7 linked regions of the Homo sapiens genome follow. The protein of the gene in region 6 interacts with the protein of the main gene of each other region in a pairwise test. Each region holds a gene or a part of one and is shown on either strand. Other genes may lie near its edges. The genes, in order: TRIM59, RNF138, MID1, PJA2, RNF10, UBE2W and CADPS2.

Evidence for each region.
Region 1: the proteins of UBE2W (region 6) and TRIM59 interact in a two-hybrid assay, tested with the Homo sapiens proteins (one large-scale study listed by BioGRID).
Region 2: the proteins of UBE2W (region 6) and RNF138 interact in a two-hybrid assay, tested with the Homo sapiens proteins (one large-scale study listed by BioGRID and IntAct).
Region 3: the proteins of UBE2W (region 6) and MID1 interact in a two-hybrid assay, tested with the Homo sapiens proteins (one large-scale study listed by BioGRID and IntAct).
Region 4: the proteins of UBE2W (region 6) and PJA2 interact in a two-hybrid assay, tested with the Homo sapiens proteins (one large-scale study listed by BioGRID and IntAct).
Region 5: the proteins of UBE2W (region 6) and RNF10 interact in a two-hybrid assay, tested with the Homo sapiens proteins (one large-scale study listed by BioGRID and IntAct).
Region 7: the proteins of UBE2W (region 6) and CADPS2 interact in a two-hybrid assay, tested with the Homo sapiens proteins (one large-scale study listed by BioGRID and IntAct).

What each region holds. Positions count from the first base shown.
Region 1 is NC_000003.12:160,439,787-160,443,286, forward strand, and holds part of TRIM59 (tripartite motif-containing protein 59), read right to left. Parts: intron 1-3,500. UniProt on the Homo sapiens protein: E3 ubiquitin ligase involved in different processes such as development and immune response. Serves as a negative regulator for innate immune signaling pathways by suppressing RLR-induced activation of IRF3/7 and NF-kappa-B via interaction with adapter ECSIT.
Region 2 is NC_000018.10:32,108,874-32,112,373, forward strand, and holds part of RNF138 (E3 ubiquitin-protein ligase RNF138), read left to right. Parts: intron 1-2,880; coding exon 2,881-3,046; intron 3,047-3,500. UniProt on the Homo sapiens protein: E3 ubiquitin-protein ligase involved in DNA damage response by promoting DNA resection and homologous recombination.
Region 3 is NC_000023.11:10,565,086-10,568,585, forward strand, and holds part of MID1 (E3 ubiquitin-protein ligase Midline-1), read right to left. Parts: intron 2,519-3,500; 5' UTR 2,463-2,518; coding exon 1,803-2,462; intron 1-1,802. UniProt on the Homo sapiens protein: Has E3 ubiquitin ligase activity towards IGBP1, promoting its monoubiquitination, which results in deprotection of the catalytic subunit of protein phosphatase PP2A, and its subsequent degradation by polyubiquitination.
Region 4 is NC_000005.10:109,399,975-109,403,474, reverse strand, and holds part of PJA2 (E3 ubiquitin-protein ligase Praja-2), read left to right. Parts: intron 1-3,500.
Region 5 is NC_000012.12:120,558,356-120,561,855, forward strand, and holds part of RNF10 (E3 ubiquitin-protein ligase RNF10), read left to right. Parts: intron 1-2,370; coding exon 2,371-2,531; intron 2,532-3,500. UniProt on the Homo sapiens protein: E3 ubiquitin-protein ligase that catalyzes monoubiquitination of 40S ribosomal proteins RPS2/us5 and RPS3/us3 in response to ribosome stalling.
Region 6 is NC_000008.11:73,819,863-73,823,362, forward strand, and holds part of UBE2W (ubiquitin-conjugating enzyme E2 W), read right to left. Parts: intron 1-3,500. UniProt on the Homo sapiens protein: Accepts ubiquitin from the E1 complex and catalyzes its covalent attachment to other proteins.
Region 7 is NC_000007.14:122,659,461-122,662,960, forward strand, and holds part of CADPS2 (calcium-dependent secretion activator 2), read right to left. Parts: intron 1-3,500. UniProt on the Homo sapiens protein: Calcium-binding protein involved in exocytosis of vesicles filled with neurotransmitters and neuropeptides. Probably acts upstream of fusion in the biogenesis or maintenance of mature secretory vesicles.

The sequences.
Region 1 (3,500 bases), on a different chromosome or scaffold from region 6:
CAGGTATGTCTTTATCAGCAGCATGAAAACAGACTAATACACTACATAATAAAGACTAAAATTCAAAGTGTTCTGTTAAAGTCTACTTAGTGATTACAACTATTTTGTGCAACATTTTAACATTTAAGATGATAAAATCAAAACCAAGCACATATAATGAGTAGACAAGACTATTTCTATTACAACAAGTTAGGCTTAGCAAAAGTATATTCTTTAACACAAAAGGAGGAAACATGTCCCAGTTGGCTCAATAATGGTTTCTAAAGCAAGCTATCAAATTTCTCCACAGTAACTGTTACTACCATAAATTTTTTAGCTTCTCAAATTAGAATACAAGAACGCTTAAACCCCAGGATCAGCATAGTATAATTCTCTAAAGCAATAATTTTAACTTGCAGATTTAGAAGACAGAAAAATTTTGAATTAATTCTTATAATAAAAATCAGTTTGAAAGATAAGAGTTGACTATAGTAACTGTGAATTAATTTTTAAGTGAAAAACTAGAGCACTAAATGGTAAAGAACAAAAAGAAGACCATTAGTCATCTTTCCTTCATGAAAGTCTCTCGATCCGTATTTCTCTGAGACAGAAAAAGAAACGTAGCGATAGTTCAGAGACCATCTCTGACACAAGTAACTTGACCTCTTGGCAAGCTACTACTGATATTTCCAGTAACAGAAGCCTGACCATTTTGCACCCTACCACCTCCTACTGCTTTCCTTTATACCTACCCTCAATGCATCAGCCACAATTCTAAAGACTAGCTTACCCCTTGATAGAGAAAAATCAAGTTATACCACTGTTGAAAGTACCTTAGGCAAAACTTAAAAACCCAAGTGCCATGGCCAGGCGCAGTGGTTCACGCATATAATCCCAGCACTTTGGGAGGCCGAGGCGGGCGGATCACCTGAGGTTGGGAGTTTGAGACCAGCCTGACCAACATGGAGAAACTCCATCTCTACTAAAAATACAAAATTAGCCCAGTGTGGTGTCAAATGCGTGTAATCCCAGCTACTTGGGAGGCTGAGACAGGAGAATTGCTTGAACTCAGTAGGTGGCGGTTGCAGTGAGCCAAGATTACACCACCGCACTCATCTGGACAACAAGAGCGAAACTCCGTCTCAAAAAAAATAAACACCCAAGTGCCATTCACGTAAAATATAAAGGTTACCAAATCACATGCTATAAAACTAACTTTTAAGATTAAAAATCTGTGAAAACAGCAACTAAAAGTAACTAACTGCATTTTTAATAAAATGCAAACTTGGCTCCTTATCTTTACGATCTGTCAAACTCTTAACTCTTCCTTCAAGGCTCAACTTGAGCCTGCCTTTTCCCCAGATTAGGTCCCCTGTTATTCTCATTAAACACTGCATTTTTACTTCATAGCACTTTAACAAGATTTTATTTAAGAATTTTGTAACTTTTCTGTATACATTAGAATGTAGGCCTCCTATAAGGGCAGGAATTGTGTCTAAACAATGGTTATATTCCTGCAATTTAGGCACAAATTTTAACACTGCAGGCATTCACTTGTTACTGCTTCAATGAACAAATGCCTTTTCAGAGACCTGTGTTAATACAGATTTTTGTTTTGGGGTTTTTTGTTTTTTGTTTTTTTAATAGCAAAATCTCTGCTTAGGAAAAGGTGTAAAACGAAAATCTATCAGAAAATACTCCATTCAGGCCAGGTGCGGGGGCTCACGCCTGTAATCTCCGCACTTTGGGAGGCCGAGGTGGGTGAATCATGAGGTCAGGTGATTGAGACCATCCTGCCTAACAGGGTGAAACCCCGTCTCTACTAAAAATACAAAAAAATTAGCCAGGTGTGGTGGTGGGCGCCTGTAGTCCCAGCCACTTGGGAGGCTAAGGCAGGAGAATGGCGTCAACCCGGGAGGCAGAGCTTGCAGTGAGCCAAGTTCACACCACTGCACACCAGCCTGGGCAACAGAGTGAGACTCCATCTCAAAAAAAAAAAAAAAAAAAGAAAAAAGAAAAAAAGCACTCCATTCAAACTGACAATATTCAGATCCCGAATGAGCCAAAGTGTGTCACACAGAGACTAAGCTTGAACTGTAGAGCATTCCAGCAAATTAAAGTAATTGAGCAACAGTAAAGAAGATGACATTCACTGCAGATAAATTCAAGTGAGTGCATGCTGGCAAGACTTTACAACTTTACCCTACACCTACAGAAAGCTATGAAGTCATACAGAAACCACCCAAGAAAAACAAATGTGTTTTTCAGAGTATTTCAGTGATGTCAGAATTCACATTGAAGGAATAAACAGAATAACACTTTGTAGGAAATAAAATTTGAGCAGTCGACGTACATTTAATCTAGATTTAATATTACTGGAGCTATTCAATTGTTTAAGTAGCAAAACTAGTCCTAAAACAGAATCTAACTTTTCTATCCAAACCCCTATTCTATGCTTGCAGAAAACTAGGGAACAACTCTGAGAATGCACTTAGGGGCCCAAAAGCTCAACTTTCTTTAGAATGAGAATATTCATGACATTGTAAAGCATATCCTAAGCTTATATAAAATGGAAGCAGGCCAAAGCAGGTGGATCACTTGAGGCAAGGAGTTTGAGACCAGCCTGGCCAACATGGTGAAACCCTGTATCTACTAAAAATACAAAAATTAGCCAGGCATGGTGGCGCACACCTGTAATCCCTATAATCCCAGCTACTCGGGAAGCTGAGGCATGAAATGGCGCAACTGCACTCCAGCCAGGGCAACAGAGCAAGACTCTGTCTCAAAAAAAGGAAAAAAAAAAAATAGGAAGCAAAAATCGTGGTTGGTCTCAAAGTTACTGCTATCATATGTAAAATTTTTAATAATACTTTTTAGACAAAAATTTGTGGATAACTTGAAGTTCACAGAAGTCAAAATCTATTCTCAGACTACCCTTTTCTCACTGATTTATTGATTAAAAACTAATTTTAGGCAACAAATTCAAGAGAAACTAGAACTGAAAAATAACTTTGTAAGGTCAGGAACTTTCTGACTCTGGTTGCTGCCTGAGAAGTAAACTATATAGGTGGGCCAGGTGCAGTGGTTCACACCTGTAATTCCAGCACTTTGGGAGGCCAAGGTGGGAAGATCACTTGAAGCCAGGAGTTCAAGACCAACCTGGGCAACACCAAGAGACCCCCATTCTCTACAAAAAATTAAACATTAGTCAGGCACAGTGATACACGCCTATAATCCCAGCTACGCGGGGAGCTGAGGCAGGAGGATCACTTGAGCCCAAGAAGTTGAGGCTGCAGTGAGCCACGACTGTGCCACTGCACTCCAGCCTAGGCAACAGAGCAAGACCCTGCCTTTTTTAGAAAAAAAAAAGATACAGGTGGCTACCATGCTTACAGGCTAGTTCTTTCAGAAACCAATATGAAATTTTATGCAGCAGAAATTTTCCACAACCAGTCTAGGCTTCTGAAAGGAAGAAAAAGAACAAAAAATTAACCTATGTATATTTTCTAGGATGAACATCT
Region 2 (3,500 bases), on a different chromosome or scaffold from region 6:
GTCTCACTATGTTGTCCAGGCTGGCCTCAAGTAATCCTCCCGCCTTGGCCTCCCAAAGTGCTGGGATTATAGGCATAAGCCACTGCCCATGGTTTTATGTATATAGGTTTGATGGGTATATACTTCAGAGTGGAATTTATGCGCTCTAATGGATATTGCCACCCAGTTTTCCAAATGGTTGTAAAAGTTTATACTCCCATAGCCTCCAATGTGAGTTTAGGTTGGTTCATATCCTCCCTAACACTTGGTATTTCCCACCGTTTTCATTTTTGTCTTTTTCTTTCTTTTTTTTTTTTTTTAAACAAGGTCTCACTCTGTTGCTCAGGCTGAAGTGCAGTGGCACGATCTCAGCTCACTGCAACCTCTGCCTCACAGGCTCAAGTGATCCTCTCACCTCAGCCTCCTGAGTAGCTGGGACTACAGGCATGTGCCACCATGCCAGGCTAGTAGAGATGGGGTTTCACCATGTTGCCCAGGCTGGTCTTGTGAGCTTAAGCCATTTGCCCCGCTCAGCCTCTCAAAGTGCAGGATTACAGGTGTGAGCCACTGTGCCTGGCCATTGTTTTATTATTACTATTTTTTTAGAGACAGGGTCATGCTGTGTTACCCAGGCGGGCCTTGAACTCATTGGCTCAAGAGACCCTCCCACCTCAGCCTCCCAAGTGGCTAAGACTACAGGTACATGCTGCTGTGCCCAGATTTGGTTACTTTTACTATTTTTAAAACTAGTTTTGCTGGGCACCATGGCTCACGCCTGTAATCCCAACACTTTGGGAGGCTGAGATGGCTGGATCACTTGAACTCAGGAGTTCAAGACTAGCCTGAGCAACTGGCAAAATCCCATCTCTACAAAAAGTACAAAAATTAGCCGTCGCAGTGGTGCATGCCTGTAGTCCCACCTACTGGGTAGGCTGAGGCAGGAAAATTACTTGAGCCCTGGAGGCAGAGGTTGCAGTGAGCCAAGATCGCACCAGTGTACTCCAGCCTGGGCGACAGAGCGAGGCTCTGTCTCAAAAAAATAAAATAAATAAAACTAGTTTTTAGTTTGGCAAGTGAAAACTGGCATCTTGTTTACTTTGCGTTATTTTGGTTTCTGGCTATGGTAAATATTTTTAATTGTTATTGTTTTTTGAGAGACAGTATTGCTCTGTCACCCAGGCTGGAATGCAGTGGCACCTTCATAGCTCACTACAGCTTCAACCTCCTGGGCTCAAGTGATCCTTCGCCTCAGCCTCCTGAGTAGCTGGGACTGGACGTGCATGCTACTATACCCAGCTAATTTTTTTTATTTTTAATTTTTGTAGAGACAGGGTCTTGCTATGTTGCCCAGGCTGGTCTTCAACTCCTTGCCTCAAGCTGTCCTCCTGCCTTGTCCTCCCAAAGCACTGGGATTATAGGCATGAGCCACTACGCCCTGCCTAATGTTTTAGTTTATGGTGTTAATTGGTAATGACTTCTAGTGCTGCTTTAATGATATTAACTACTATTTATTGAGCACTTTCCTGACCATGACAAATAATGTGTTAAGCATTTTATACTTGTTATCTATTTTAATCCTCTGAACAGCCGAATCAGTTGTAGATACTTTTATTATTTCGTGAGTGAGGAAACTGATATTAGAGGGAAAAACTGACTTGTTTAAAAGTGCTGCATAGTTAGGAAACTCAGGTTATGTGATCTGTTACTGCACCATTTCCTCTCAACTTCTGTTAGTATAGAGGAGGAATATTCATATATATTTATAGGAGATTGGATTAAATGTATATGTATTCTAGATCCCAGATATATATGTCTGTAATTTAACTGGTTCTCTTGAAAGCAAAATGATCAAATAAGGTATTTGGTGGGGCTAGAGAAGATAAAAAGATTTTAGTTTGATTCTAATTAGAAAGTTGGTTATAAATGTTTAATCTTTTTTTTTTTTTGAGACGGAGTCTTGCTCTGTCGCCCAGGCTGGAGTGCAGTGGTGCAATCTCGGCTCACTGCAACCTCTGTCTCCTGGGTTCATGCCATTCTCCTGCCTCAGCCTCCCGGGTAGCTGAAACTACAGGCGCCTGTCACCACGCCCGGCTAATTTTTTATATTTTTAGTAGAGACGAGATTTCACCGTGGTAGCCAGAATGGTCTTGATCTCCTGACCACGTGATCCGCCTGCTTCAGCGTCCCAAAGTGCTGGGATTACAGGCGTGAGCCACCGTGCCCGGCAAAGCCGGAAGTATTCTTAAGTATTTCTCAAATTATGTTCCATTGCATACTGTTTGGGAAATTTCCCTACTTCCGGACCAAATAACCAAATATCTGTTAACACGCAGATAACTTTGGGTAACACCTAACTTTGGGTAAAACCTATTAACTTTATCCTAGAACTTCCCAAACCAATTTGTGTGCTCTTTTGTAGTAGACCTGTTTATGTCTTGTGGAACAACATGTCGATATACATCAGTTTGAGACAAAAGCTTATGTTACTCATCCTTTTATTTTGTAAGGGGAGGAAATGGAGATCCAGTGTGCGTTAATTTGTTGGCCTAAGATTACACAGCTACTAAATGGCAGAGCCAGGATCCGGTTTTTCCTTTGTACCATGCTTCCTCTAGTAATATTATTAATATGTAGCATTAATATTTATTCATCATATATTATGTTAAGAAGTTGTAAAGCAGACTTGAGTGTAATTGTTCAAATATTCCCATCTAGTCCAGTTATCAGTCTTACTCTCTGATAAATACATATACAGTTACTAAACTTCTGAGATTTATGTACATATGAGTAGCCTAACTTATTTAATATGAATACATATTTATAATCACTTGTTTGTATTTAATTATAGAGATGAAGAGAGTAATTTTTTTTGTAATTAATGTGTCACAATGTTTGGTTTAGTTTCTGTAGAAAATGTTTCCTGACTGCAATGAGGGAAAGCGGAGCACATTGTCCCCTATGTCGTGGAAATGTGACTAGAAGAGAGAGAGCATGTCCTGAACGGGCCTTAGACCTTGAAAATATAATGAGGAAGTTTTCTGGTAGCTGCAGATGCTGTGCAAAACAGGTAGAGTAAATGTGACATCTCTCTTCTTTGGAAGCCAAGTTTCTACTCTGAAATTCTTATTTGAATTTTCTTGGTTGGTGTTTTTTTTTTTTTTGAAAAGATGAAAGGTATTTAGACTGGGAATTGGATAGAAAAGGCCAAAAAAAGCTGTGGTCATAGATCTTACTAGATTATAAACTTACTGAGAAATGAGACTGAAAAAAAAATCACTGAATTTCATAATACTTAGCGTGGCATTTTTCTAAAAGTAATTTCTCATTGATTACTTGCTAAAGTAACTAAATTAGCAAGCTGGCATTTAGCTCATTTAAACCCCATTCTGGTACAAATTCACCCCTTAAGTTTTTCTCATGGTAGCATCATTATTGCAGCTTTACACATAGAAATGTTACTAGTTTGGGCACATGGATTTATGTAGTTTAAGGAACTCTCTAGCTCCTCACTTTACTTATGT
Region 3 (3,500 bases), on a different chromosome or scaffold from region 6:
ACAGCTCATACATGCATTGCCTTTGCTATGATTAACTTTGGTGGTACTTTTCTCCTGTGCTGCCATGCACTGTTCTGGAAAGCCTGTCAGCGGCTGTCTTCTGTTGTCTGTGTCACCTGAGTCCTTGTGCTTGACTTCCTCTACATGGTTTAAAGATGGATTTGCACCAGTAATTCTTTGGATACTTGAAGTGAAACATGCTGCCCAGGTGATGCTTTTGTTGCCCAAGTGACATTGAGAAGCAGGAATTGACTTCAGCATGTCGGCTTCCCTCAACATGTCAAGAAATAGCAAAGCCAAATCCCAGATGTGGTCCGTTAATCCCACTGTCACAGAATAAACTATGTGGTCCCAGTAAACACAACCACCCATTAGCGCTAAGGAGAGGTGATAGAAACCATTTGTTAAAGGTGACACTGTTTTCTAAGTGATAACACTCTTTTGATCATGTGATTCATTTTGTTTGCTCAACAACATGGTATGTGTTTTTCCTGAGAGGAAGGACTTCAATATATATTTACTTAGAGCTTTTAATTTATACTTCCTTTCTTTTAATTGGTGTCTTGTGATCTAAAATTAGCTGATGAACATAGTATCTCACTCAAACTCTCTCAGCTGAGTTTTCAATAATTAGACCCACTGTTGCCTGAAATTGAACAAACATGTGGAGACTTGGCTTATTATTTCTTCCCTAGTGCTTTCTATCCATACTTAGAGAGTGATTTTTTTTTTTTTTTTTTTTGAGAGAGAGTCTCGCTCTTTCACCCAGGCTGGAGCGCAGTGGCGCGATCTTGGGTCACTGCAACATCCACCCCCCAGGGTCAAGTGATTCTCCTGCCTCAGCCTCCCGAGTAGCTGGGATTACAGGCACCCACCACCACACCCGGCTAATTTTTTTATTTTTAGTAGAGATGGGGTTCCACCATGTTGGCCAGGATGGTTTTGAACTGCTGACCTCAAGTGATTCACTCTCCTCGGCCTCCCAAAGTGCTGGGATTACAGGCATGAGCCACCACGCCCTGCCTAGAAAGTGATCCTTTTATTTCACATATAGTCATATTAATCATTATCCCCCAAGCTGGAGTTAGGTTAATAATTTCATGTAAAAAATGAAGTTCAAATAGTCTTGACTGTAACCTTACTGAATAAAGAGCCTACACGAAAAGGAATTCTTTCGTGAAACCTGAGATTGTCAGAGCACTGAATTTCACCAATAAGCTGGATATCGTTTATACAAGGAATAAAAGGTCACGTGTCCTCTAAAATCCCACATTTGCTACAGACATTCTTCCCTCTATTCTTTTGTTTGTGCAGTAACTAGATACAGGTACAATGAGAGTGAATTAGTTTTCCCAGATGAGTGAGAAAAGTAAGTGTTCCCCAAATGCCCAAAGCCAGATTTTATCTGTCATTCTCTCTCTCTCTCCCTCTCTCTCCCTCTCTCTCCCTCTCTCTCTCTCTCTCTCTCTCTCTCTCCCTCTCTCTCAGAGAGAGGCAGCACTCTCTTTGGAAGAACTGTAAGGATTGAAAATGATCCAGAAAAACTGCATGGATTGAAAATGATCCAGATTTTTAGAATTTGCCCTCACCTTGACAACGCTAAAATTACAAGCAGCAGTCAACTTTTACAAGATACCCTTATTGTGTAACATTTATAGGTTGCCAAAAACATGCTAAAACTAATCAGATAACAAAGGTGAGGAGAAAACCTTCACCTGCCATGTAGCTAGCAGTGAATACACTTTTTATTTCCATGACATTTTCTGGCAGAAAGGGGTTGGCTTAAGGCGGATCGGACTAACCTTCAATTTGTCATAGCGCTCACTCAAAGCTGCCACCTGATGATCGCGGTGCCGCCCAACCAGTTTACACAAGGCACAGATTAACTGGTCATCGGTCACACAGTACATATTCACCTTCTCATCCTCATGCTCCAAGCACATCAGCCCCCGGATGTGAGAGTCCGGAATTGGCTCAATCAGACGATGGCCTGTAAAGGGCTTCTTATTCGGGTGAGTGGCTTTCAGGCACTCGTCACAGTAGGATACTTCACAAGTGACACAGGTCTTCACAGCGTCCTGGGCAGGATCCTGGTCACAAAACTGGCAGAGGACCTTCTCGGCGGAGGTCATGGTGTTGGCGTCAAAGGCCCGCTCCCGACGGGTCTCGCTGGGAGAGTTGGGCCCGCTCACTGATGCTTTCTGGAACCTGTCGATGATGTTCTGTAGGGTGACGTTGCGCTTGAGCCCGTCTAGACCTCGCTGGCTGAGGGTGATGACATGCCGGCAGGTGGGGCACTGGAAGGCGGTGATGGACTCCACAGACTCGTTGGTGGCACAGTGTGATACTAGGATGCGGTGGGCGCAGTTGAAGCAGAGGCTGTGTGCGCAGGGCAGTAGAAGAGGGTCCTCAAAGAGCTCCAGACAAATAGGGCAGGTCAGTTCTGACTCCAGTGTTTCCATCTTCAGGCAAAGCTCTCTTGTGTCATCAGCAAAACCCAAGGAAGCTGATCAGCTATCTGGAAACAAGAATGTAAGATTTGATTAGGCACAGGGAGGTCAACCATAGGGGGGTGTCAGCTTTGAATGCATCTCAGAATAATTCCAAACACAGGTCATGAAAGGGTAAGTGTGTGTACATTCCAAATAATTCTCTTTCTATTCACTGGGGAAAAAAGGAGGAAAAAGCATCCTGAGCCATCATATACCAGTTAACATTTTCTCAAAGTTCAGTAACTGAAAATGTGCAATTTTTTTTTTCAATTTTGTTTTTTAAAAGGCTTCATTCAAAACTAGAATGTAATTGAAACTGTAATTTCCATAATTTGTATTTAATCAGAATAATCTTATTGTGTCAGAGTCAGGTTTAACCTCGCACAGAAAATTAAAATGTAGAAATATTCATCAATAAACTAGAGTCTTTTATAAATTTGAATTTATAAACTTACGTATTAATGTATACGAGATTTAAGGACTTTTACTCTGCAATACCAAACCAGGTTTCAGAACAATAGGAAGGCAGTAACTATAGAAATGGGCATGAAATGTACATGAAATCAAATGTGGGGATTTCAGCAGAGATGATCGTGTTTAAGTGTGGGATGTCATTTTCCAAAATATATTCCTGAGAAAAAACATTGACTTTCACAAAGATGATTGTGATAGAGGCAATATTTTTGGCATGTGTTCATTATGTTTCTGAATAATTCTATTGTTTAATCCAGCAGTGGGACGTGGGTAGGCAGAACGAAGTGGAGAAAAATATCTGGGGGCTTTTTCAGTGGCTGCAGTAAGTTTGAGTACCAATGACTAATATTTAGAGCAATGATTTAGTTAATTAGAACAAGGATTTCAGTGGTCATCATATTCATGTGATAAGTTATGTTATGACAATGATAATGATTACAGTTGAGAAAGCAATTTAAGGAGGCTTACAAAACTGCTGAGGGACCCTTTTGGCCAAAAAACTCCCACCACGGGCTTGTCACTGTTGCCAGCAAC
Region 4 (3,500 bases), on a different chromosome or scaffold from region 6:
ATTTATTAGGATTAGTATTATTTGTTTTACAATTTTTTTTAGAGTTTGCATGTGAACTCTTCTGGTCCTAGAGTTTTCTTTGCTGGAAGGCTTCAAAGGATAAGTCCAATTATCCTTTAATAAATACAGGATTATTAGGGTTATCTATTTCTTCTTGAAAGCTTTCGGTCTTTGTATGAATCACTTTCACTCACTAAGTGAGCGTTAGTAGTTTTTGTCTTTCAAGGCATTTGTCTTATTTCATTTATTCGTTGTCATAAAGTTGTTTCTTAATTATTTTAATGCCTATAACGTCTGTAGTGGTGTCTTTCCTTTCATTCTTGTTATTAGCAGTGTGACCTCTCATTTTTATTTGGTTCTAGGTTTATTTTATTAATCTTTTCAGAGTCAACTTTTTATTTGATTGCTTTTTTTTTAATTGTTAGTTTTATTGATTTCTGCTTCTTACTATTTCTTTCTATATGCTTTGGGTTTAAATTCCTCTATGTTAATTTATTAAGGTGTAAGCTTAGGTCATTGACTTGAGACCTTTTTTCTTTTCCTTCCAAGCACTGCCTGAGGTGCTTACACAAATTTGATGCACTGATTTTTTTTAAAGTTCTTATGTCACTTCCACTTTGACCCATGAAGGTTGCTGTTTAATTTCCAAATATTTGGTGATTTTGCATGTCTCTTTCTTTGTATAATTTATTTTAAATTCTTTGATATTTGTTTTATGACCAGAATATGGTTACTCTCAGTAAATGTCCCATGTACACTTCAAAATAATGTGTATTCTGCTGTTTAGCAGTGGAGTATTCTATATCAAGTTGATTGATGATGCTTGTTAGGCCTTCTCTTTCCTTACTGAGTTTTTGTTTGTTTCATTGATCATTGAGAGAAGAGTTGAAGTCTCCAAGTATAATGGTAAGTTTGTTTATTTCTCCTTTTCAGTTTTTGCATCATGTGTATTGAACCTCCTGTTAGGTGCATGTAAATTTAGGATTGTTAAAACTTTTTGGTGAATGAACCCCTTAATCATTATATAATGCCCTCTTTATCTCTGATAGTATTCCTCATTCCAAAGTCTACTTTATCTAATATTAATACAGCCTCTCCAGCCTCCTTTTAGTGTTTGTATATTATTTTCCATCCATTTAATCTGTCTTTTATTTAAAATGGGTTTGTTCTAGACAGCCTTTTTTAATTCATCTTGAAAAATCTGTTTTTACATTGAAGTGTTTAGACTATTTACATTTAATGTAATTTTGATGTAGTTGGATTTAAATATACAATCTTAATTGTTTTCTACTTATGTGCTCTCTGATGCCTATTTTTGAGTGCATTTTATCTTCACCATTGGCTCACTACTTACACTCAACTTTTCCTCTCTTTTAAAAAGTTAATTGGCTTCTCTGTGATTTATATTTTACATCTTTAATAATAGACCATATGGAAGCAATACTATACCACATTTTATATAGTGTCAGAGCTTTACAACAGTATATTTACAATGTATATTTACAATTTCTCCTTATCTTTTGTGCTATTACTGTTTTACCTTTTACAAATGCCATAAATGCATAATACCTTGTAATATTTGTTTTATTCCTGTGCTGTCTAGTATGGTAGTCATTAGCCAGTGTAGCTATTTAAATTTGAATTTAAAGTAGTTAGTACAAGTTAAATTAAAATTGATTTTCTGTGTTATAGTGGCCTCTTTTCCAGTGCTTATTCTTTCTGCATGAAGAACTTCCTTTCACATTTCTTGGACTTCAATTCTACTGGTAACAAAGTTCCAAAGATTGTTTCACAAATACTTTGTTTCACTTTTTCTTTTGAAAGATTTTGCTGGATATAAATTTATTGTTCACAGTGTTTTTCTAATATTAAGGATGCTATTTATTATCTTTTGACTTGCACAGTTTCAAATAAGAATTTGGCTGTGATTCTTATTTAGTTCCTTTTTTCTGCTGTCAGTATCAAATATGTTTTATCAGTGGTTTTTAAATTTTATTTTATTTGTTGTTTTTTTTTGAGACAAGGTCTCGCTCTGTTGCCCAAGTGGAGTGCAGTGGTACAAGCTTGTCTCACTATAGCCTTGAGCTTCTAGACTCAAGCAATTCTCCCACCTTAGCCTCCAAAAATCCTGCATTTGCAGGCCTGAGCCACTGTGCCCAGGCTGTCATTGGTGGTGGTAGCGGTTGTTTTTGAGACAGAGTCTCACTCTGTCGCCCAGGTTGGAGTGCAATGGCGCCATCTCAGCTCACTGCAACCTCTACCTCCCGGGTTCAAGTGATTCTCATGCCTCAGTCTCCCAAGTATCTGCGATCACAGGCTCCCGCCACTACGTCTGGCTAATTTTTGTATTTAACAGGGTTTCACCATGTTGGCCATGCTAGTCTCAAACTCCTGGCCTCAAGTGGTCTGCCCTCCTTGGCCTCCCAAAGTGCTGGGATTACAGGCATGTGTCATTTGGTTTTTTTGTTGTTGTTGTTTTGTTTTTTGTTTTTGAGACAGAGTCTTGCTTTGTCTCCCAGGCTGGAGTGCAGTGGCGCCATCTCGGCTCACTGCAAGCTCTGCCTCCCAGGTTCATGCCAGTCTCCTGCCTCAGCCTCCTGAGTAACTGGGGCTACAGGCACCCGCAACCATGCCTGGCTAATTTTTTTTGTATTTTTTTAGTAGAGACGGGGTTTCACCATGTTAGCCAGGATGGTCTCAATCTCCTGACCTCGTGATCCACCTGCCTCTGCCTCCCAAAGTGCTGGAATTACAGGTGTGAGCCACCATGCCCGGCCATATCATTCGTTTTTTATAGCAGGTTAAAGATGTTAACATCTTGGGATATGTGTACATTTTTGTGTGTTTTGTATTTATACTGCTTTTGTAGGGGGGAATCACTGAGCTTCTTGGGATTTATGATCTTTTAAATAATGTATGAAAAATTCACAGCATCTTTCTCTTCTAATGTTTCCACTGCCCGCGACACCCCCCCGCCCTTCCCCCCCCTCCCCCTGCTGGTTTGCTCTCTTTTTGTGGGGTTCCAGTTAAACTCATGGCAGCTCATTTAATGCAGTCCACAATTCTTGGAGGCTCTGTTTTGGTTTTTGTTGCTGTTGTTTTTTAACATGTTTCTTTTCAGTTAAATCACTTTTTATCTAGGCTTGGATCATTTCTTTTGACTTATCTTTTTCTTTTTTTTTTTTTGAGACAGTCTCAGTCCATCACCCAGACTGGAGTGCAGTGGTGTGATCTTGGCTCACTGCAACCTCTGCCTCCCGACTTCAAGCGATTCTCCGTACCTCAGCCTCCTGAGTAGCTGGAATTATGGGCGTGCACCACCACGTCTCACTAATTTTTTGTATTTTTAGTAGAGACGGGTATCACTATGTTGGTCAGGCTGATCTTGAACTCCTGACCTAAAGTGATCCACCCATCTTGGCCTCCCAAATTGCTGGGATTACAGGTGTGAGCCACTGAGCCTGGCCTGATTTATCTTGAGCTCACTAAAAGCTTCCTCC
Region 5 (3,500 bases), on a different chromosome or scaffold from region 6:
TCATTTGGGTGGTAAATGTGTGTGTGTAATATTTTTTTCCTAGTGATTTTGACTGTTTAAATGTTTAGCAACTTAAAACATTAAAAATGTGTATTAATTAAAAAAAAATCCTCAGATATGGGTGGATTTTTGAACCAGGCTGAAATGATAGATGCTGTAAAAGACTGATAAATTTTATTTTTATTTTATTTATAGATATATAATATAATATGTATATATATATTTTTTTTTGAGACAGAGTCTGGCTCTGTCACCCAGGCTGGAGTGCAGTGGCATGATCTTGGCTCACTGCAACCTCTGCCTCCCGGGTTTGAGCGATTCTCGTGCCTCAGCCTCCCGAGTAGCTGGGACTACAGGCGCCCGCCACCATGCCTGGCTGATTTTTTTTGTATTTTTAGTAGAGACGGGGTTTCACCATGTTGGCAGGCTAGTCTCGAACTCCCGAGCTCAAGTGATCTGCCCGCCTTACCTCCCAAAGTGCTGGGATTACAGGCGTGAGCCACTGTGACCGGCCAAGAAAACCACTTTTAGTGTCCACAGAATTTTCGTTAATGAACATACCATCATGTCATTAACCCTTTATTTGAGATGGAATCTCACTTTGTCGCCTGGGCTGGAGTGCAGTGGCAATAATTACTTTTAATTAATTAAATTCATTAAAATAATTAAAATTAATTTAATTAATTAAATTAACTTTTAATTTTAAATTATTTTTTTTATTTTAAAAAATTAACTGGGCATGCAGGTATAGTTAATTTTTTATTTTTATTTTTAGCAGAGATGAGGTCTTGCTATGTTGATAGGCTGGTCTTGAACTACTCTTTTTTTTTTTTTTTTTTTTTTTGAGACGGAGTCTTGCTGTGTTTCCCAGGCTGGAGTGCAATGGTGTGATCTCGGCTCACTGCAACCTCCACCTCCTCGGTTCAAACGATTTTCCTTCCTCAGCTTCCTGAGTAGCTGGCATTTCAGGCACCTGCCACCACGCCCGGCTAATTTTTGTTTTTTTTGTGTGTGTGTGTTGTGCTTTTTTTGTTTTTGTTTTTGTTTTGAGATGGAGTCTCACTCTGTTGCCAGGCTGGAATGCAGTGGTGCAATCCCGGCTCACTGCAATCTCCGCCTCCCAGGTTCAAGAGATTCTCCTGCCTCAGCGTCCTGAGTAGCTGAGATTACAGGCACGCACCACCACACCTGGCTAGTTTTTGTATTTTTAGTAGAGACGGGGTTTCACCATGTTGGCCAGCATGGTCTCAATCTCTTGATCTTGTGATCCGCCTACCTCAGCCTCCCAAAGTGCTGGGATTACAGGTGTGAGCCACCGTACTCCGCCTGGTGTTATTTTTTTTTAATTTTATTTTTTGAGGCAGAGTTTTGCACTTGTTGCCCAGGCTGGAGTGCAATGGTGCGATCTTGGCTCACTGAAACCTCTGCCTCCTGGGTTCAAGCGATTTTCTTACTCCAGCCTCCCTAGTAGCTGGGATTATAGGCGCCCGTCACCACGCCCAGCTAATTTTTTGTATTTTTAATAGAAACAGGGTATCTCTATGTTGGCCAGGCTGGTTTCGAACTCCTAACTTCAGGTGATCCACCTGCCTCAGCCTCCCAAAGTGCTGAACGTGAGCCACCACACCCAGCTGGCTTGGTCTTAAACTTCTAAACTCAAGCAATCTTCCTGTCTTGGCCTCTCAAAGTACTGGGATTATAGGTGTGAGCCACTGCGCTGGTCCACCATTTCTTTATTCTTTATTGTTGGTTTTACTGGTTGGTTTGAGCTTTTCTTTTTCTGTGTGTGGTTTTTTTTGTTTTTTTTTTTTTTGAGACAGAGTTTCGCTTTTGTTGCCCAAGCTGGAATGCAGTGGCATGATCTTGGCTCACTGCGACCTCTGCCTCCTGGGTTCAAGCGATTCTCCTGCCTCAGCCTCCCAAGTAGCTGGGATTACAGGCATGCCCTACCAGGCCCGACTAACTTTTTTGTATCTTTAGTAGAGACGGGGTTTCACCATGTTGGTCAGGCTGGTCTCGAACTCTTGATCTCAAGTGATCCACCCGCCTTGACCTCCCAAAGTGCTGGGATTACAGGTGTGAGCCATGGTGCCTGGCTGGTTTGAGCTTTTCTGATATTACATACAATGCTGTAACAATAAACGCGTGACTAAAGTTTTGACTACATCTCTGGGTTTCTTAGATTTCTTATATCAAGAGCAGAGCTACAGACCTTATTTTAAGACCATTGTTAAATTATTTTCTAGGAAATCATGCTAAATTACCCCATTTTCACCCCAGAGAAAAGGCTGTATTTGAAAATTCCTATTTAGCTACACCATCGTGAGCTTTGAATGTTGCATTTCTTTGATCTTGCTGGCATTCTTATAGATGAACAGCACAGCCAGTACTCCAAGTTGCTGCTGGCCTCTAAGGAGCAGGTGCTGCACCGGGTAGTTCTGGAGGAGAAAGTAGCACTAGAGCAGCAGCTGGCAGAGGAGAAGCACACTCCCGAGTCCTGCTTTATTGAGGCAGCTATCCAGGAGCTCAAGGTGAGAGGATGCATTGGAGATGCTAAACCTTTTCACTTTCTCGGCGTTCTGTGGTGAAAACCAGAAATGCTAAACCTTTTCACTCTGTCGGGGGTGAGATGATGGACGCTGGGGATTAAGTTAGTTCCATTCCACATTTAAGACAATAAGCAGAGAATGGCTAAAAAAGCCAATTTGTTTTGGGCTTTGTTTGATGACAGTAGAGAAGGTTTAACCTAGGGCTTTTAAAGCTCTTTCTAGAGCTGAAAGGAGCAAGTCAAAATGATTTTATAACTAATTGTGACAGTGGAGTTTTTTAGATTAGCTATGTTCTTAAAGCAAGTTAGAGTTCTTTGTTTTCTGGGAAAATACTTAAGATTCTATTCTAGAGGTGTTTTGAAAGACATTGTGGAGAAAGTATTATGGCCTGCCCAGTATGCCTTAGGAGTACCTGAAACGGCAAGAATTACACAAGAACAGAATTCCCTGGGTCTTTTATCTTCCACAACAGAGATTCTTGAAGCATCACAACCACTGGTTGTTAGGTCCCACTTTGAGATATTGATTGCATAGGTTAAGCTCAGTAGGCTCAGTAATTTGCATATAACAAGTTCTAGGGTGATTCTGATGGCTGCTCATCCCCAGACCACACTCCTGGAACCACTGATCTAGCTTAGAGCAATAGAAGCCCATATTTATTGAGTGATCAGCATTTGATAGGACTTGTGCTATACACATTTATCTCACTTAAGCTTCTAGTGTGGTAGATAGAACTATCCCCTTTCATGGATGAGGAAACTGAATCCTGGGTTGGGTAATTTGCTAGTAAGGGATGCAGCTGGTATTTGAATTCCCTTCTCCCTGACTCCCAAGGGCTCCTTGGGTAGAGTCCTGTGTATTTAACTTTTGCTTTCTTTCTATAATACGTTGCAGCCGTATTTGTTCAAATGCCATTACAGGCATAAGAAAGGCTACATAGAATTAGAGCTG
Region 6 (3,500 bases):
ACAAAAGCAGTAATTTCACAATGAGATTCATCTATTCTAGAAATATTTTCCAAATTCTACTCTTGTAACTAGTGATAAACTCAGTACTGTTCATTGCATAGAAAGATGAAAGACTTTTCTTTCTTTTTTTTATTAGAGATGGGGTTGCCCTACGTTGCCCAGGCTGGTCCCAAAACTCCTGGGCTGCCTTGGCCTCTCAAAGTGCTTGGATTACAGGCATGAGTACCATGCCCAGCCAGAAAGATGAAAGACTAATTTAGGTAACAAGTGCTAATGCTACAGAGTTTCATCAAATAAAATTTTGGGGGAATTTTACTGCCCTAGAGGACTGGTTCTAGCCACTTTCCCAGGGCAGTGGATCTCTGCAAAGTTTCAGTTATTGGAAAAATCTTGAAGTCTATAAGCACATCAAGCATTGATGTTTGACCCATTATAATTATGTTAAAACTATATAGATTATGTATAAATACATTTTAAAAAATTTTAACGTATTACTGGCCTCAGAGTAGTTCTGCCATTTTCCCAATCAATGGATATTAGAATATACAACCTCTATGCCATGTGAGGGACTACAGAATTAACTGATATTAAAAAGGAATCCTCACTGGGCGTGCCTATGATCCCAGTACTTTGACAGGCCGAGGCGAGCAGATCACTTTAGGACAGGAGTTCAAGACCAGCTGGACCAACATGGTGAAACCTTGTTTCTACCAAAAATACAAAAAAAAATAAGCCAGGCATGGTGGTGCATACCTGTAGTTGCAGCTACTCAGAGAGGCTGAGGTGGGAGAATGGTTTAAGCCCAGGAGGCAGAGGTTGCAGTGAGCAGAGATCACACCACTGCACTCCAGCCTGGGCAACAGAGCGAGACTCTGTCTCAAAAAAATAAAAAACAAACAAACAAACAAACAAACAAACAAAAAAACAAAATAAAAAAACCAAGCCAGGCATGGCGGCAGATGGCTGTAGTCCCTGCTACTCTGGAGGCTGAGGTGGAAGGATCACTTGAGCCCAGGAGTTGGAGGCTGCAGTGAGCTATGATTACACCACAGCATAGGTAGATGACAAAGGGAGACTCTGTCTCCGCACCCCCACCCCACCAAAAAGTAAATTAAAAAAGGAATCCTTATATTTCAAAAAGAGTGAGAATAACTGACCTAGAGCTTTCAAAGGTACCATTCATTCCACATATAATCTTTCACTTTCAGAGAGAAAATTACTACATAGATAAATAGGCATTTTTTCCACACCGGTACTCGCATCTAATTGGCAGTATGGCAAAGGAGGAAAGGAAAGACTTGGGTTTGGGTCTTGACTGTCCTATAAACTAGGTATTAAAACGTGAACAAGGCACTTCACTTCTACAAGTTTCAATTTCTTCACATATAAAATGAGGATGAATCTACCTCCCCTAACCACTTCATTAAAAGATGTTAGAAAACAAAATCAGAATGGAAGTTAAATTATGAAGTACTATATAGAAATATTACCATACAGAATGCATGCAGGTGCAGAAAAAGTTAAGTTTGGATGTGACTATACAGGGACTTGAATGCCAGGCTAAAAACTTGATTCCATAGGAAATAAACATTAAGAGGTTTTACTGTCAGGGGGTGAGGAATTCTGGGGATGGTGGAGTGAGACAGAGTGTGTGTGTGGTGGGGGGGTGGAGTGGGGTGTGGGAGTGTGTGTGTGGGGGGGGGGGGATGTGTGTGCATGTCCATGTGTGTGGTATGTAACCAGTGAGATAACTGTGCCTTCAAACAAATCTATTGGCACCGTGAAAGGATGTAGGAATTCAAAGAACTAAAGGCTACTGTAATGGTTCAAATAAAAGATAAAAACCTGGACTAGGCCAGGCATGGTGGCTCACACATGTAATCCCAGCACTTTGGGAGGCCAAGGAGGTGGGCTGATCGCTTGAGCCCAGGAGCTCGAGACTAGTCTGGGCAACATGGCAAGACCCCATCTCTACAAAAAATATAAAAATTAGCTGGGTGTGCCATCAGATGGCCAAATCATTATTTACTGGACCAGACCTTTTCAAAACTATCAAGCAGATAGTCAAGGCCTGTAAAGTGTGCCAAAGAAATAATCCCCTGCACTGCAGGCCATACATTTCAATCCCTCTATCTTTAACCTCCTTGTTAAGTTTGTCTCTTCCAGAATTGAAGCTGTAAAACTACAAATCGTTCTTCAAATGGAGCCCCAGACAGTCCATGACTAAAATCTACCACAGACCCCTGGACCGGCCTGCTAGCCCATGCTCCAATGTTAATGACATTGAAGGCACCCCTCCTGAGGAAATCTCAACTGCACAACCCCTACTACGTCCCAATTCAGCGGGAAGCAGTTAGAGTGGTTGTCGGCCAACCTCCCCAACAGCACTTGGGTTTTCCTGTTGAGAGGGGGCACTGAGAGACAGGACTAGCTGGATTTCCTAGGCCGACAAAGAATCCCTAAGCCTAGCTGGGAAGGTGACCGCTTCCACCTTTAAACACAGGGCTTGCAACTTAGCTCACACCTGACCAATCAGATAGTAAAGAGAGCTCACTAAAATGCTAATTAGGCAAAAACAGGAGGTAAAGAAATAGCCAATCATCTGTTGCCTGAGAGCACAGAGGGAGGGACAACGATCAGGAAATAAACCCAGACATTCGAGCTGGCAACAGCAACCCCCTTTGGGTCCCCTCCCTTTGTATGGGAGCTCTGTTTTCACTCTATTAAATCTTGCAACTGCAAAAAAAAAAAAAAAAAAAAAAAAAAAAAAAATTAGCTGGGTGTGGTGGCATGCACCTGTAGTCCCAGCTGCTTCGGAGGCTGATATGGTAGGATCACTTGAGCCCAGGTGGCAGCAGTTGCAGTGAGCCAAGATTGCACCACTGCACTCCAACCTGGGTGACAAAGCGAGACGCTGTCTCAAAAAAAACAAAACAAAAACAAACAAACAAAAAACCAGACTACAGCACTGACATTAAGAAAAGAATGGGCTACCTTTCAAATGTAGGAGGGAGGAGTGTGGAAAAGAGAAAAACTGAGCACAAAAATAGACAGGTGGACAGTAACCCAGGATAAAGAAAAACAAAATGTTCTTTGTTATTGGAAAGATCAAGTTTAGTTGTGTTAAATTTGAGATGTCTGGAGGTACTCAAGTATTTCAACAAGGGTGTGAAATTAAGCCTTAAAAAAAGAAGTGTTCCCAGAGCTGTAGATCTGGGAGTTAGCTGCTTAAGGTGACTGAAGGTGAAAGAAGAGTGAGAAGAGTAACACAGTGCTGAATAAAGAACCTGGATAACACCAATGTTAGAAGAACAGACAAATAAAATCAGGGAAGGAGGATAAAATGAATTTGAAATAGGACAATAGGGAGAATTTATTACAAATGCTGTAACTTACAGAAATATTAAAGAAGAAATTCAACATAATGTTTAAGTTTGATATTTGATTTAGAATTAAATATTAAGGAAAGAGTTTAGAGAACACATTTTTGACTTGGTTTC
Region 7 (3,500 bases), on a different chromosome or scaffold from region 6:
AACAAACAGAACGGACATCCCAGGACTGTGGGATAACATGGGTAACAGAAACATGGGTGACATAAACATATCTAGAATACCAGAAAAAGAATAAAGAGGGGATAGGACAGAAGGAATATTTGAAGTAATAACAGCAGTGAACTTTCCAAAATTAATAATAGACACTGACCCACAGATACAGGAAGCTCAGAAAAACACCAAGCAAAAGAAATACACACAAGCACACACACCCCTAGACACAGCATATTCGAATTGCAGAAAAATGAAAGAAGGAAAAACTCTTGAAGGAAGCCATAAGGGGGAAAATAACACCTTACCTCTAAAGAGTAAAGGATAAGAACTACATTAAACTCATCAGAAATCATGCAAACAAAAAGACAGTGTGGTGAAATTTTCAGAGCGCTGAAAGAGAAAAAAAAATCTAACAGATAATTCTATATCCAGTGAAATTATACTTTAAATGCAAAGAAGAAACAAGGACTTTCTCAAACAAAAACTGAGAGACTGCATCACCACTAGTCTTGGCCTACAAGACATGATAAAAGTTCTTCAGAGATAAGGAAAATAATATCAGTAAGAAATTTGAATCTACATAAAGAAATGAAAGAGCATCAGAGGAGGAATAAATGAAGGTAAAATACATATAATCTTTTATTTTTCTTATTTTTAATTGAGCTAAAAGATAACTGTTCAAAGCAATAATAGAAAGAATATATTGGGGGTTATAGCATATTATAAATGAAGTGAATGACAGCAATGCCACAAGGGATGCGAGGAAGGAATTGGATATACTCTATTATGGAGTAGCTGCAGTACACATGAAGCCTTATAGTATAGTGTTATCTGATGGTAGGCTTAGATTATTTAAAAATATGTATTTTAAACTCTAGGAGAATCACCAAAATTTTGTTTCGTTTTTTAAAAAAATGTATAAGCAGTACACCAAAAGACACAAAATGGAATTCATATAAAGTGTTCAATCAAAATTACAGAAGGCACAAAAACTAGGGGAGGGCAAAGAACAAATGCATCAAGTGGTAAAAGCTACAAAGATTTTAAAATTTAATCCAACTACATTAGTAATCACCTTAAATATGAATGGCCTAAACATACCCATTAAAAGACCAAGATGATCAGTCTGGATTTAAAAAAAAAAAAAGAAAACTTGGGCCAAGCGCTGTGGCTCACACCTGTAATCCCAGCACTTTGGGAGGCCGAGGCGGGCGGATCATGAGGTCAGGAGATCGAGACCATCCCTGCCAACATGGTGAAACCCCATCTCTACTAAAAATACAAAAATTAGCCAGGCATGGTGGTGTGGTGCCTGTAATCCCAGCTACTTGGGAGGCTGAGGCAGAAGAATCACCTGAACCCGGGAGGTGGAGGTTGCAGTAAGTTGAGATCACACCACTGCCCTCCAGCCTGGACAACAGAGGAAGACTTCGTCTCGGAAAAAAAAGAAAAACTTCAAGACCCAATTGCACACTGTCTACAAAACATCCACTTTAAAAATAAAGACTTATGTTAAAAGTAAACAGATGGAGAAAGAGATACCATGTTAACCTTAATAAAAAGAAAGCTGGAGTGGCTGTATTAGCTTAAGACAATGTAGATTTCAGAAAAAGGAAAATAATCAGGGATAAAAAGGAATACTACATCACGATAAAGGAGTCAATTCTACAATAAAACATAACAATCCTACTACAAATATATGTACCTAATAGAGTATCAAAATATATGAGACAAATACTGATAGAACTGAAAGGACAAATAAACAAAACTGCTATTTTTTATTGTTGTTCAGGCCAACTCTGAGCAAGGACAAAGCCACTGCTACAGTTGGAGATCTGAATTGCAAGTAGGTTTCAAATCACAGAAGACTAAAACCAGGGTGCCCACAGTCCAGCTGATTCTCTAGTAGGCAGACAACTTAAACATATTTTAAGTTAATAACATAAACTCATAGGAACATGGAAATATATTTTATAACCTTGTAACATCTAGTATATTCTAATCCATATGTAATAACTCATTTAGAGGTCTTATAATATCTTTGTGTTTTAAAATCAATAAAAAATAATCCATAAGCTTTTCTTTCAAATCTCAGAACTGAAAGGAATTATAGCTTTAACTGAGACATATAAAGAGCTTGAAAGTCATCACTCCCATCCTCAGAATAAAAAGCTGGGCAAGCTGCAAATAAATGACTTTTCTTGGACTTATCAAGTCTTATCTTATATAGACTTTAGCCACTACAGAGGAAAAAATATGTTTTTTCGCTCAACTTGGATTCCCTAATACCTACAGAGGTTTTGGACTTGAATAAAGCTCAACAAATATCTACTGAATGTCTGAATCTGAGTTTTCCCACTAAATTATGTTAATCAACATTTATTTGTACAAGTGAGCTACTGTTTCACTAAAAATACAAAGTTCCAGTTGAAGTTATCTTTCAAATAGAAGATTTTGGTTTTATAGTCTTCTTCCACTATTATCAAATAACTACCTGGTTTAATAAAACAATGAAATCAATTACAGTGAGTACACAAATTGTTCACAGGGTTAAAGTGCCTCAGTGATTTACTATTAACTCTATTAATTTGTTGACTTGAAATGATCCACAAATTACCAATGCAAAGTAACCAATATGGATATAACACAGAAATTCAGAGAAGATTTGCAAAAAGATTAAAAACAAACATGTATATTATAGAAGTGTAACTCTTAAGGTAACACAAAAATTTTTAAGTGTCAGAATTTTATCAATTTAAGTTTTATATTAGGGCATAGTTAAATAATTTATACCCTCAACATAAACAAACAAAATGCAAATATAGAAGGACTACATTATTAGACAAATCATTGGGTCTAAAAAATGAAAAATGTGAAACATGATTTTATACCTCCTTCCCTGCTTTTTTTTTTTTTTTTTTTTAAGACGAGTCTTACTTTGTCACCAGGCTGGAGTGCAGTGGCACGATCTCAGCTCACTGCAACCTCCGCCTCCCAGGTTCAAGCAATTCTCCTGCCTCAGCCTCCTGAGTAGCTGGGACTACAGGCATGCACCACCACGCCCAGCTAATTTTTCTATTTTTAGTAGAAACCAGGTTTCACCATGTTGCCCACGATGGTCTCAATCTCCTGACCTCACTATCTGCCCGCCTCAGCCTCCCAAAGCATTGGGTTACAGGCGTGAGCCACCATGCCTGGCCTTTATCCCATTTTTGTATGTATAACTAGAATAACAACTGAAGAGAAAATATAATATTCACTCTGTCATCTCTTTAAATTACATAGTTCAACTATCATCCTCAATTTATTTCAATCTGGATGAGTTAAATAAAAAAATTTGAAATTTAATTACTTCCATACAACTCAGAAGACCAGCATCATATCTTTATAAAATATTATTTTGCAGTGAGAAATACCTATTTATTATAATTTGCCAAGCTTCTTCAGATAGGAGATGATTTTCCTTTTACTCTACATGGCATGGCCCA